Linked DNA regions of Homo sapiens: region 1 is linked to region 2. Evidence: fine-mapped expression QTL. A gene starts in region 2. The other region holds a variant in brackets. All regions are shown on one strand. Distances are from middle to middle. Region 1 overlaps CCDC88C (coiled-coil domain containing 88C). Region 2 holds the start of CCDC88C (coiled-coil domain containing 88C).

Region 1 (5,363 bases), 44 kb before region 2:
ACTTCATGGTGGTAGAGTACTTTTTTTTTTTAAGCTTCTTGGCAAAGTCAGTATTTTTGCTGATGGATGGAAAAGTCAGTAGTTCTGCTGATGGATAAGCAAGAAAGGGGCAGAGAAAGTGTGGCCAGAGGAAACTACGGTATGCATGCAGGGTGGGCTGGGACAGGCATGACCCCCCCAGCCAGAATGAGTGTAGTGGTCCCATGGGAGGAGCCATGTGCTGTCCAGGCCCAGCCAACCTCACCCGCCGGTGGCAGGAGTACAGAGGCCGGCGGTGGCAGGAGTACAGCACAGACCAAGACCACAGTCTTGGTCCCGAGGAGCCTGTGGAGTCACAGACTGGGACCAAGACTGCCTCCCACACCCTCCAGTCAGGGGTGGCTCTAGCTGATTTCCTGGGCAGGCACCTATCTGTCCTGGGCACACCCTCCCTAGCTCAGCAGAAGCAAGGCCTTCCTCGTCCCAGCAAGTAGCTGGGCTGGGGGAACGTGGCGCCTGCCCACACAGTGTCCCATGTCCCACTCCACCGCTCACCCACCCAGGCCCACAGGCACCTATGCCAGGGCAGGGCTGGGGCCACGCCACACCCTGGCAGCCCTCACCCGGTGGCCTGACAATGCCGCTTCACTCCCAGGCACAAGTCGGAGCAGGATGGTGGAGGGCACCTAGGAGCCTCCAGCGGTAGATGGCAGCCCAGACCACCCCAGCCTGCTGGGACCTGTGAGGGTGGGAAAGGCAGGCAGTGGGGGCAGCCAGCCCCCAACCTCACGCCCCAACCTGAGCCCAGGCCTCAGGGTACGAGCACCACAGCACAAGGGGTACCAGCACTCCCGAGTGACCAGGCCTCCTTGTCCAGTGTCCCAGGGCAGGCATCTGGAGGGCAGGGAGAGCTCCTTGAGGAAGGGCAGCCATTCCCTCTCTCATTTATGCCACACTTCCCGGGCACCTGCTGGGTGTCTGATGGCATGCCAGTTGGGAGGTGGAGGGTATGAAGCCAAGACTGCTACCCTCAAAGCCAGGAAACAAAGACAAGGAGGACAAAGCCTGTGGGATGGGGGACAGTGAGGGGCCCAGGGTGTTTGCTATAGGGCCAGGCCCTGTCCTGGGGAGCTCACAGCCTGATCCCACCAGCAAATCCCACCAGCAAGTCTGGCACCCTAACAGAGGGATGGCAGGCACCTGAGCTGGGGGCACTGGGAGCAGAGGAGAGCGGGGAATCCAGAAAAGCTCCAAGAAGGAGGTGGCCGGAAGCTGAAATGGGAAAGAACAAGGAGCAGGTGACATCCAGGTAGATGGCAGTGGTGCGGGGGGGGGCGGGCGGGGGGGGGAGGCGTGTGTTAGTGCAGGGAGGGCTAGGAATAAAGGAAAAGGAAGACACAGAAGGTGCCCCCATCTTGTGTCTCTGGCTACAGTCCCACGATGAAGGACAACTGAGAACCAGATGTGCACAGAACCACCGTTCAGGGAGTCTGGACCCAGCCCTGTCTGCACGTTATCTAAACGGTGACAGCAGCAGCTTTGGAGTCCCCTCTGCCGGCTCCACCACCACGTTGCTGCTGGGCCTCGGCATCAAGCCCTGCCAGGTGGCCAGAAAGGCAGGTGGCCGGGCAGGCAGGCATCACTTAACCTAGCGACAATCAAGCCTGTGCCTGGCATGAAGTCAGGCCCCCGGAGGTGCTGGCTGAACCTGAGGCCTTTCCTAGCCGTCAGGTTTTGCTGGGCACTGTGCTCTCAACATGCTCCGGGGCGACACACCATCCTCCCTCCTGCTTCAACACAGGGCAGCTCTGCAGGGGGCAAACACAGGAAGCCACAGTCACCACAGTGAGCCCATAAAGGAAGACAGTCCCAGCTACCTGTGTGTGCGAGGAGTGGGGTCCATTCTAGAGATCCCCAGGAATGCACAAACCGTCCCCAGCCCCTGGGCTCAGGACCAAGGAGGAAGAACTGAGCTGGGACATCTGCTGGGGCCACCTTCTCTCTTCTCCCTCTGGCCTCAGGAGGGCCAAGAAAAACACACACGATACCAGTGCCCTATGGTGGTCTGGACTCAAGAGAGCTGGCTTGGACGCTATGCTGAGAACACTAGGGGCAGGTCTGGCCCTGGGAGCAAGTGTGCCACGGTTCATCAGTGACATCTGCCTGGGGCCAAGCAGAACTTGTGCTGGTCAAATAGCAAAGGATGAAGAGAAGGAAAAATTCTACACACATGGGAACCATGAGTCTCCAGCATGGATAAATAAGACTGTAATTACCCCTCCTTAGCCCCCACTCGCTCCTCCAAAAAAGCTTTCTGGAGGAAACAGACAGCAGAGCAGACATTTCATGCAAACTGGTCTCTTTTCATTACAGGAGTTTGCAGCAAAAGATCAGACTTCATCTAGAGAGCAAGAAACTCTCTATTCTATCACCAAGAATGTA[T/C]TCTATAGCAGGAAACTGGGGGAGGGCATATCGGGACACAGTTGAAAAGCCGGGGAGGAGGAAGGTTCAGAAGTGACAAGTTTCTAATGACTAATATCTCGGCAGGAAGTGAAAATCTCAAAAGATGTTATCAACTTTGCAGCAGCTGTCCAAGTTGGGGGGTGGGCAGGGGTTGGAGGTGACCTGGCAGCCCAGCCGGTCCCCTGCCCACCCGCACCTGACAAAATCCTCTCTGTCCAGCCACACTTGCCTCCAATGCCTTCCTCAAACCCCTCCGCCGGCAATGATCACTTCCTCAGCAATCAGTGCCCCCAGGCCCCTCTCTCGTGTCCCTGCCTGAGTCCCACACAGGGAACTGAGATCCTCAGGGTCCCCAGGGCAGATGCTGGAACATGCTCACCTCTGAATCCCCCCAGGGCTCTGCACAGTGTGGCCCACAGCAGATGCCTGCCAGCTGCTGGCTAAATGGAACTGGCTGCGGGGAGGAAGGCTCTGGTGAGAACAGAGGCTTTTTGGGACCTCCAACTAAACGCACCCTCCCCCATCTACAGTGTAAAGAACACTTTATTTCGAACAGCAATAAATCAGCATGCTGCATAAACCAGGAGCTTGGCTAGACACACTGTGTCTATTACCTCTCATCCTAACTCTTGCAGGCAGTAGCAGGGTTAAGTCCACCAGGTATCTGCTAATGCAAGGTCCATTTGATCAATAGGTATTTTTCATTGCTTGGAATATTGGAGTAAATGAGAGGGCTAAAGAGGTAAATATATGTCACATGTGTGTGTTAAGAAGCAAAATAAAGGAACATAGGAGGAAGTGACAGAAAACATAGCTCTTACAGACAGGTGGTCAAAGAGGGCCCTCGATGAATCGTCAGCTGAACAAAATGCGAGTGTAGGGAGGGTGTGAGCCAGGTGGACGGGTGGAACTGGAGAATCCCAGGCAGAGGGAACAGCCAGGGGCAAGGGGTTACAGCCAGAACAGGCCGTGCAGTCCTGCTGAGCACAGAGCCTGGGGTGGCCCAACCGACCTTTGAGGCCATTCCAACAGTCTGGCAGCATCTGCAGTGGTCTCTGCAGTCAGGCTCATTCCGAAGCCTCAGGAGGCACAAGGAAGTCTCACACAAGTAACTCACTGTGATCCCAGGGGTAGTTTAAGCTTGGGTTCCAGGCACAGATGACTGGTAGTGGTTACCTAGAGTTCTGTGTTGAGAAGGATTCTGAGGCCAGATCTGGGCTCAGAGACAAAGAGGGCCAAGATCGGTCAATGGTGCCTGTCAGAGCCAGGAATGAAGATGTGGTGACACTCCCTTACGGAGCCCAATGGGACAGGCACTGTAACACGTATGTGGTATACAACATGCCGAGGGGATGTGGGCAAAACACCAGGAACTCTCTTCACTAGTTACGAAGCTACAGACTGAGTTTCCTCTGCTAAACCAGCCTTACTCTTCGAGTCTCCTTCTTGGGCTGTGGGCTCCTGAGGGTGGTGATCTGGGCGGTCTCGCTCCCCAGGGCTCTCCCAGGGCCTGGCACACAGCAGGGCTCAGCCATCATTTGCCAAATGAGCTAATGAAGGGCCACAGGCCCCAGGGTTAGCATGCGCGCGTGTCTGTGTGTGTGTGTGCGCGCGCGCATGTGGGAGAGAGAGAGACAGGCTGTGTGAACAGCCTGAATCTAAAGGACTGGGACAGAAACAATGCCCTTCAATTAGACCAACTGGACCCCTGCTGTGTGAGGCTCCGACCTGAGGACTCCAAAAAAAATCAAATCAGATGAAGCTTATTCTTCCTTTTTTCCTTTAAGTAGGGAAGCTTTTCTTCAGATGTGGGTGAGGTGGGGAAGAGGGGGGTGGGCAGCGGAATCAAAGAGCGTTTTCGGGGAAGGAGGGAAGGGCAGGCGCACAGACCCGCCCCGGCACCTGCTCACGAGGCAGACCAGCTGCTCTGGCTTCCCCGCAGGGCCGGCCGAGAGCCCACACTTCAGGCAAATAAAAGCACCCTCACCAGCTGTTCCCATGGCCAAGCCAAGCAGGATGGCAGTCTGTGCCAGCCCTGCCTCGGCAGCAAGTGGACTCTTCCAGCCCAAGCCACGAGATGAGGGGAGACTCAACCCTGTCCGTGCCCGGAGCACCTTCCCTGTGCGAGGCTCCTCAGGGCGAGTGGGGGGCAAATGTCTCCTTCTGATCTGACCCTTTCCAGCAGGCATGCATCTTCTTGCGTTCAATGGGGCAGGTGCCGTAACTGTGCCCATTTTACAGAGGAATAAACTGAGATACAGACAGTAAGGATGTGCCCTGGGGTCACATGACTACAAGTGGCGAGGCTGGGGCTGGAAACGTAGACCTTCCAGCCCCGCGAGTTCACAGGAGAAGAGGCTTGAACCCAGTCAGCCAACAGCCAGCAGCCCAAATGTATCTGCGGAGGAGACCTGAGGAGCTGGCAGGCGCAGAGGACCCTTTAGGCTGTGGCAGCCAGGAAAGGCCACACTTGTCACTCCCGCTGCTGCCCCCCAGGACAGGGTGACGATCATAGGTCAGGCTTCTCTCCTGTGAGCTCAGAGCCTCCTGAAACACCCAGGTGCTCGTCGCCGGGCATATGCATGTCTGGCTGGTGGTGGGGGCGCTGTCTGCTCCTGCTCCCTGACCTTGGTCGCCATCTTCTGCGCTTTGCACACTCATGACTGCCTCGATTTTATATCCACTCATGTGTTCATTCACTCACCCAACAAGCGTTTAGTGAGCCCCCGTCCCCTCAAGGCATGTGCTAGGAGCCAGGGCGTTATAGTGAATGGAAACAGATAGGACCCCTGCCCCCCAGGAACCACAGTCAAGGTAGTGAGGGACTTTTATCCACCGCCGTCTCTGGAGAGCCCACAGGTGGGAACACAGCCCTGGTGGGGCACAGGGAGGCTCTAAACAAACATTTCCTGCATGAACGC
Region 2 (5,291 bases):
GGAGAAACCCCATTTCTACTAAAAATACAAAATTAGCCGGGCGTGGTGGCGCATGCCTGCAATCCCAGCTACTCGGGAGGCTGAGGTAGGATAATCGCTTGAACCCGGGAGGCGGAGGTTGTGGTGAGCTGAGATCACGCCATTGCACTCCAGCCTGGGCAACAAGAGCGAAACTCCGTCTCCAAAAAAAAAAAAAGCAAGGTTCTTGAATTATTTTTTTCTAAACAGGCTGTTTAAGGCAATCTATATAAGCCACTTTCTGGATATGCCAAAGCAAACTGCTCCTCTGCCTTTGTGAGCCACAAACGAAGCTGATCTCTCATTAGCTAATAGATTTATGCTCCAGTATGACAACTTGCTCAGTCGTAGGTGAATAGGTGCGCACACGAGGCTGATCCACAGAGAACATTAGGATGTTTTATTTTGCTTCAAGTGCCTGTGAATCATCCCGACACTCAGTTCCAATGTTCCCTGCAGTTTGAGTTAAAAACAGAATGCAAAGGTAGAAGCCAACACCTACGTTGTGGCAAGCTGTCAATCAGGCCGTGCAGAGCTCAGCAACAGGAAAGGATGTGGTCAGATGTACTCGCTGGCAAGAGTAACTTCTACTAAGACCCTGTTCAGGCTGCATGCTTCCAAACAAACAGCACCATGGGACCCTCCTAACACTGTGACTTTAAACTCAGTCCATACAGTAGGACTTAATGAATTGCACTTGCTTTGGGGCAACTGAAAAAGGAAGATGAAATGTAAAGGAGCTCAGAAACACAGACACCCTCATCTAAAATGAAACTTTACAGTAACCCTCGGATGCCTGGGCCCACCCCGACACTTCCTGTAACCAGACACTCTCCGTTACAGTTCCTTGCCCTCCAAAAGGGGACTTTTTCATTTCATTGCTCAAACCACAATTAAGTCCTTGAGTCTGAAGTCAATTGCACTATCTACACCACGTAAATGACAGTCATTCAATTCCAAATTTCCTTCATCAAACCAACTGCCAGACCCACTGTCCTGGAGTTCTTCAAACACCTACGAATGTCCAACAGGCACGTTAATACTGAGATACCAGCGTCTCCACCTTCAGAGAACTACCCCCCACCCCACACACACCCCGCCATGCAACCTTCCACTCCATTTCTACTCTCAAACTTTCTAACGCACCATTCTTTCCTTCCTCCGAGAAGAAGGTAACTTACATTTGCAGCATAATTTGGTTCAAAAAGATGCCGTCCACTAAATCCATGTACATAGTCAGGTTGTCCTGGCTGCCGCTTCCAAACGGGCCAAAAGTTTTCACCTGCGGGGAGGGGGACGAGGAGAGAAAGACAGGAAGTCACCCCGTGCGCACAAACGGTCCAAAGCTCTCCCAGGCAGAGACTGGACGGGTCAGTGTGAGCAGAAGGGGGTCACCCACGCCCACACCACCCTTCAGCAGGCACCAAGCCCGGCCTTCTCCTAGGGCCTGTCTCCCCTCCCCGCGCGGGGCAACAGACACGAGACAGGAGGAAAAACTTCCTCGCCACTTTTCTCCCGCGTTCCAGAGCGGAAGAAATAAAAATAAAAAGGACTTTTCAATAAATGTCTCACGTCTCAAATCCATTGTAAATCAGTGCGCCCACCCCAGTCTGTTCGCTTTCCCATTCGGCGCCCCCCATTCCCCACCCGTCACCGCCATCCACCGGCTGGTCTCAGGGATTCAGAAAAACTACATGAGATATTTGGTTGGGAAGAATGGGGTCCTTTTCGGGAGTGGCTAAACCCCAGGGACAGGAGTGACCACTGGGACCCGGTCCGCCCCGAGGCAGCCAGCCTAGAGCCCCAGCGGGAACAGGTGTACCCGCCCGGCTCCTGGCCCGGCCGAAAGCGCGGCGGGGTCCCGCGCCGGACGCACAACGGGGGCGCCGGCTCCAGAGTTACAAAGCTCCGGACTCCAGGACGCGGCCCCAACCCCGGCCGGGAGCCACTTGCTGCGTCCCTCGCGCCCCGGAGCCACCCGGGGCCCCGGCCGTGTCGGGTCTGCGGCGTCCCGTCGCCGGGCTAGAGAGAAGCCGGTGCACCAACAAAGGGGCGGGGAGCCAGGCGCACTCACCCAGGTCACCAGCGGGCTCTGCAGGAAGAGCTCCAGGAGCTCCGAGACTGTCACGTCCATGCTGAGGCTGCGCCCGCCGGCTCCGCGCCCCCCGCCCCGCGTCCCCGTTCCCCCGCGCCGCGGCACAAAACGGCTCCGCAGCGAGCAGCGGGCGCGGGGCTGCGGCGGCTCGCGCCCGGGAGACAAAGGCGGGGCGCGCGAGCCCACGTTCCGCGGCTTCGGCGGCCCCGCGCCCCGCCCGGGTCTGGGGGAAGGGGAGGGCCAGCCGCTCGGGGAGGAACAATACGGGCGGCCCCGCCCCTCGGCGGCCCTGGGCGACCGGCGCGCCGCCTCGCGGTGCCAGCCCGGGAGCCCGGGAGCCCGGGCGCGGGACCAGGCTACGCGGGGCGCTGGGAGGGGACTGGTGGCCCGAGGCGGGTGGGTCGCGGGGCCCGGCTCCCCGCCCGTGGGACCGCGCGCCCTCGCCGAGCGCAGCCTCCCCGCGTGTGGGGCCCCAGCACGTGGCGCATCCCTGCGCGCGTGCGCGTGCAGCCGGGGCCCGAGCGCCACGTGCGAGCTGGGGTGCGCGGGCACTGGTGCGTGCCGGGAGCGGGGACGCCCTGCCCTCCGAGGTTGCTCTGCCCTCCGAGGTCGCCCGCAGCTGCCGCCCGCTCTGGGCTTGGGGACCTCGGCCCTGCGCCTTTCCGCACTCCTGGCAGGTGCAGCCCCAGGTACAGTCAAGAGGCCCCGCAAACCCCCGCTCCTCACGCTTGTGCGCGGCGCGATAAACGCGCCCCGACCCTGGGGCTGGGCTGGAGGGCAAAGAAGAAACTTTATGTTGAGTTTAGGCCTTAGGGGCGCGGCCCCTCGCGCCCTACCGTGCCCCACCGTGCCATGTTCCGGGCTGCCTGCCTTCTAAAAGTTCCTGCAGGAAGCAGGTGATGTGGCCTCCCCGACCCGGGCCCGCCCCCACCACTTTGCCGGAGGCGAGCTAAATTCCAGCCGGGGTTCCTAGCAGCAGCTTAGTGGCAGGCGACAGGAAAAAGGGCAAAGGCCCCAACTGGCTGGAAGGCAAGCCCGGGGGCAGGACCTCCTTGCGGGACGGCACGAGGCAGGAGCCGGCTCCAGGCTGGTCTCGGCCTGGTAATAATTTCACACCACCAGCCGGTCATTGTTCAAAGCACTGTAGACCATTTTACTAATTTAACCCTAACGATCGCCGCATTTCGCAGCTGGGCCAACTGGTACAGGGTTGACCCGAAGGGCCCTGCGTGGCGCTTGGCAAGTATACAGCAGGCACTAAATGGCTGCCGACAGGCTCGGTGGTAATTTTGAAAGTTGGCTCTGTGCAGCGTTGGGGCTGCGGCATCTGCTGGTGGCGAGTGGTATTACAGCCCAGCGCTGGCGGACCCCGTTGGGCTGGGGAGGGTTGTGAGATTATGGCCTGAGAGCCAAGGGGGTCGGTTAGGGGTCCCTAGAGACTGTGGAAGGCGGGGTAGCATAAAACACAATGGGGGACTGCGGAGGAACTAAAATTTCGAGACTACATGGTTTTGTTGTGCACCAGAAGTTCATTAGAGAAGTTCCTTAATTGCTTCTCCGCCCGCCGCGATGGCACTCGACCCCGCGGATTAATTTAACAACTCTGATGGTTGCTCTGTGAAATTTAAAGAACAGTGGTTTAAGCAAAGACCACAAGAAAGAAGAATTGAGATCAAAGAGGAGTGTGTGCCATCGCTGTGGAGGAGTTTCAGTTGTGAATCATGAAATGTCCTGTAAACCATTTCAAGGAGTTTGATTTTTATACCAAAAACAATGGGAAGACACTACAGGTTTTTGGAGCAGCAGCTCAGACGTGTCGAAAAAGATGTTTTGATCCCTAAAATAATGAGAGAAAAGGCCAGAGAGAGGTCTTCTGACAAGTTCAAGATTTTACCAAATGTTGCAAGAACTCTGGAATCCTTATGGTAGTAAAATGCTGGAAAGAAAATTCTGCATTGAAAGAATGTCTTAACAGCTCACTATAATGACCCAGCCTTTTATGAATAATGCAAAGTGGAAAACCTGAAGGAAAAGGAAGAATTCAGAAAAACTGGAATTTCTACAAAGAAAAGTCTACAGAAGCTGCCCACAAGTGTGTAGACAAATATTCAGATGACATTCAGGATCTCTAATACTCATGGAAGTCGTTTATAGAATAAACCTTAAATAATGGACTCAAGAATGTGTGTTTGCTAATTATGTGTGTATCCTAATTATGGAAATATTAATTTTATCTGAAATAAAAATCTTTTTTTCTTTTCTCTTTTTTTTTTTTTTTTTTTTTTTTGAGACAACAGAGTCTCACTCTGTTGCCCAGGCTGGAGTGCAGTGGCGTGCTCTCTGCTCACTGCAACTCCGCCTCCCGGGTTCGCGCCATTCTCCTGCCTCAGCCTCCAGAGTAGTTGGGACTGCAGGCGCCCACCACCACGCCCGGCTAATTTTTTGTATTTTTTACTAGAGACGGGGTTTCACCGTGTTAGCCAGGATGGTCTCTATCTCCTGACCTCGTGATCCGCCTGCCTCGGCCTCCCAAAGTGCTGGGATTACAGGCGTGAGCCACCGCGCCCGGCTAAAAATCTTTTATTTAAAAAAGTTCCTTAATTGCTCATAATGTAAGTTAGTTCAAAAATAGGTATGATGTGTACACACACCGCTCTTCGCTCGGAAGCCTCTCTTCTGAAAAGTAAGGGATGCAGATGCGGCCAAAGTTGTTTTTCCAATTTTTTTGGAAAGACAAGGATGAGGAATCTTTAAAGTTATTTATTGAGGCCGGGTGCAGTGCCTCACACCTGTAATCCCAGCACTTTGGGAGGCCTAAGTAGGTGGATCACTTCAGCCCAAGAGTTCAAGACCAGCCTGGCCAAAAAAAATAGAAAAATTAGCTGGGTGTGGTGGTGCACACCTGTGATCCCAGCTACTCTGGAGGCTGAGAATCACTCGAACCCGGGAGGGGAAGGTTGCAGTGAGCTGCTATTGCACCATTGCACTCCAGCCTGGGTGACAGAGCAAGACTCTGTCTCAAAAAAAAAAATTTATTGAGTAAGCTTATTCTTTCACACTAAGAAATACAGTGGACAAATGCCTTCTGACAGTTGTGAGACTTTTCCCATCCTGGTGAGGGAATTTTCCCCTGGGGACATTGACAAGGCCCTGGGCCACAGCCATGTCAGGAATGTTT

What was found. PIP is the estimated chance that this variant, and not a neighbour inherited with it, causes the effect.
Region 1: its variant is fine-mapped to the expression of CCDC88C in whole blood (TOPMed, PIP 0.96).

Annotation. Positions count from the first base shown.
Region 1 is chr14:91,371,224-91,376,586 of GRCh38, forward strand. All of the region lies in intron 3 of CCDC88C (coiled-coil domain containing 88C), which reads right to left. LOC107984673 (a long non-coding RNA gene) reads left to right here. Exons shown (of 2, transcript XR_001750858.2): 2 at 1,413-3,028. Among named protein-coding and RNA genes, the nearest start is that of CCDC88C, 44 kb to the right of the region's middle. RefSeq lists enhancers at 530-1,142, 2,746-2,815, 4,278-4,950. The variant T/C (reference allele first, on the strand shown) is at 2,422.
Region 2 is chr14:91,415,539-91,420,829 of GRCh38, forward strand. CCDC88C (coiled-coil domain containing 88C) reads right to left here and starts at 2,282. Exons shown (of 30, transcript NM_001080414.4): 1 at 2,093-2,282; 2 at 1,200-1,300. The coding sequence starts at 2,152. CCDC88C-DT (CCDC88C divergent transcript) reads left to right here and starts at 2,708. Exons shown (of 3, transcript NR_184261.1): 1 at 2,708-2,802. It also overlaps the pseudogene LOC112268126. RefSeq lists enhancers at 208-337, 728-857, 868-1,157, 2,763-3,407, 3,648-3,697 and a silencer at 1,778-2,697.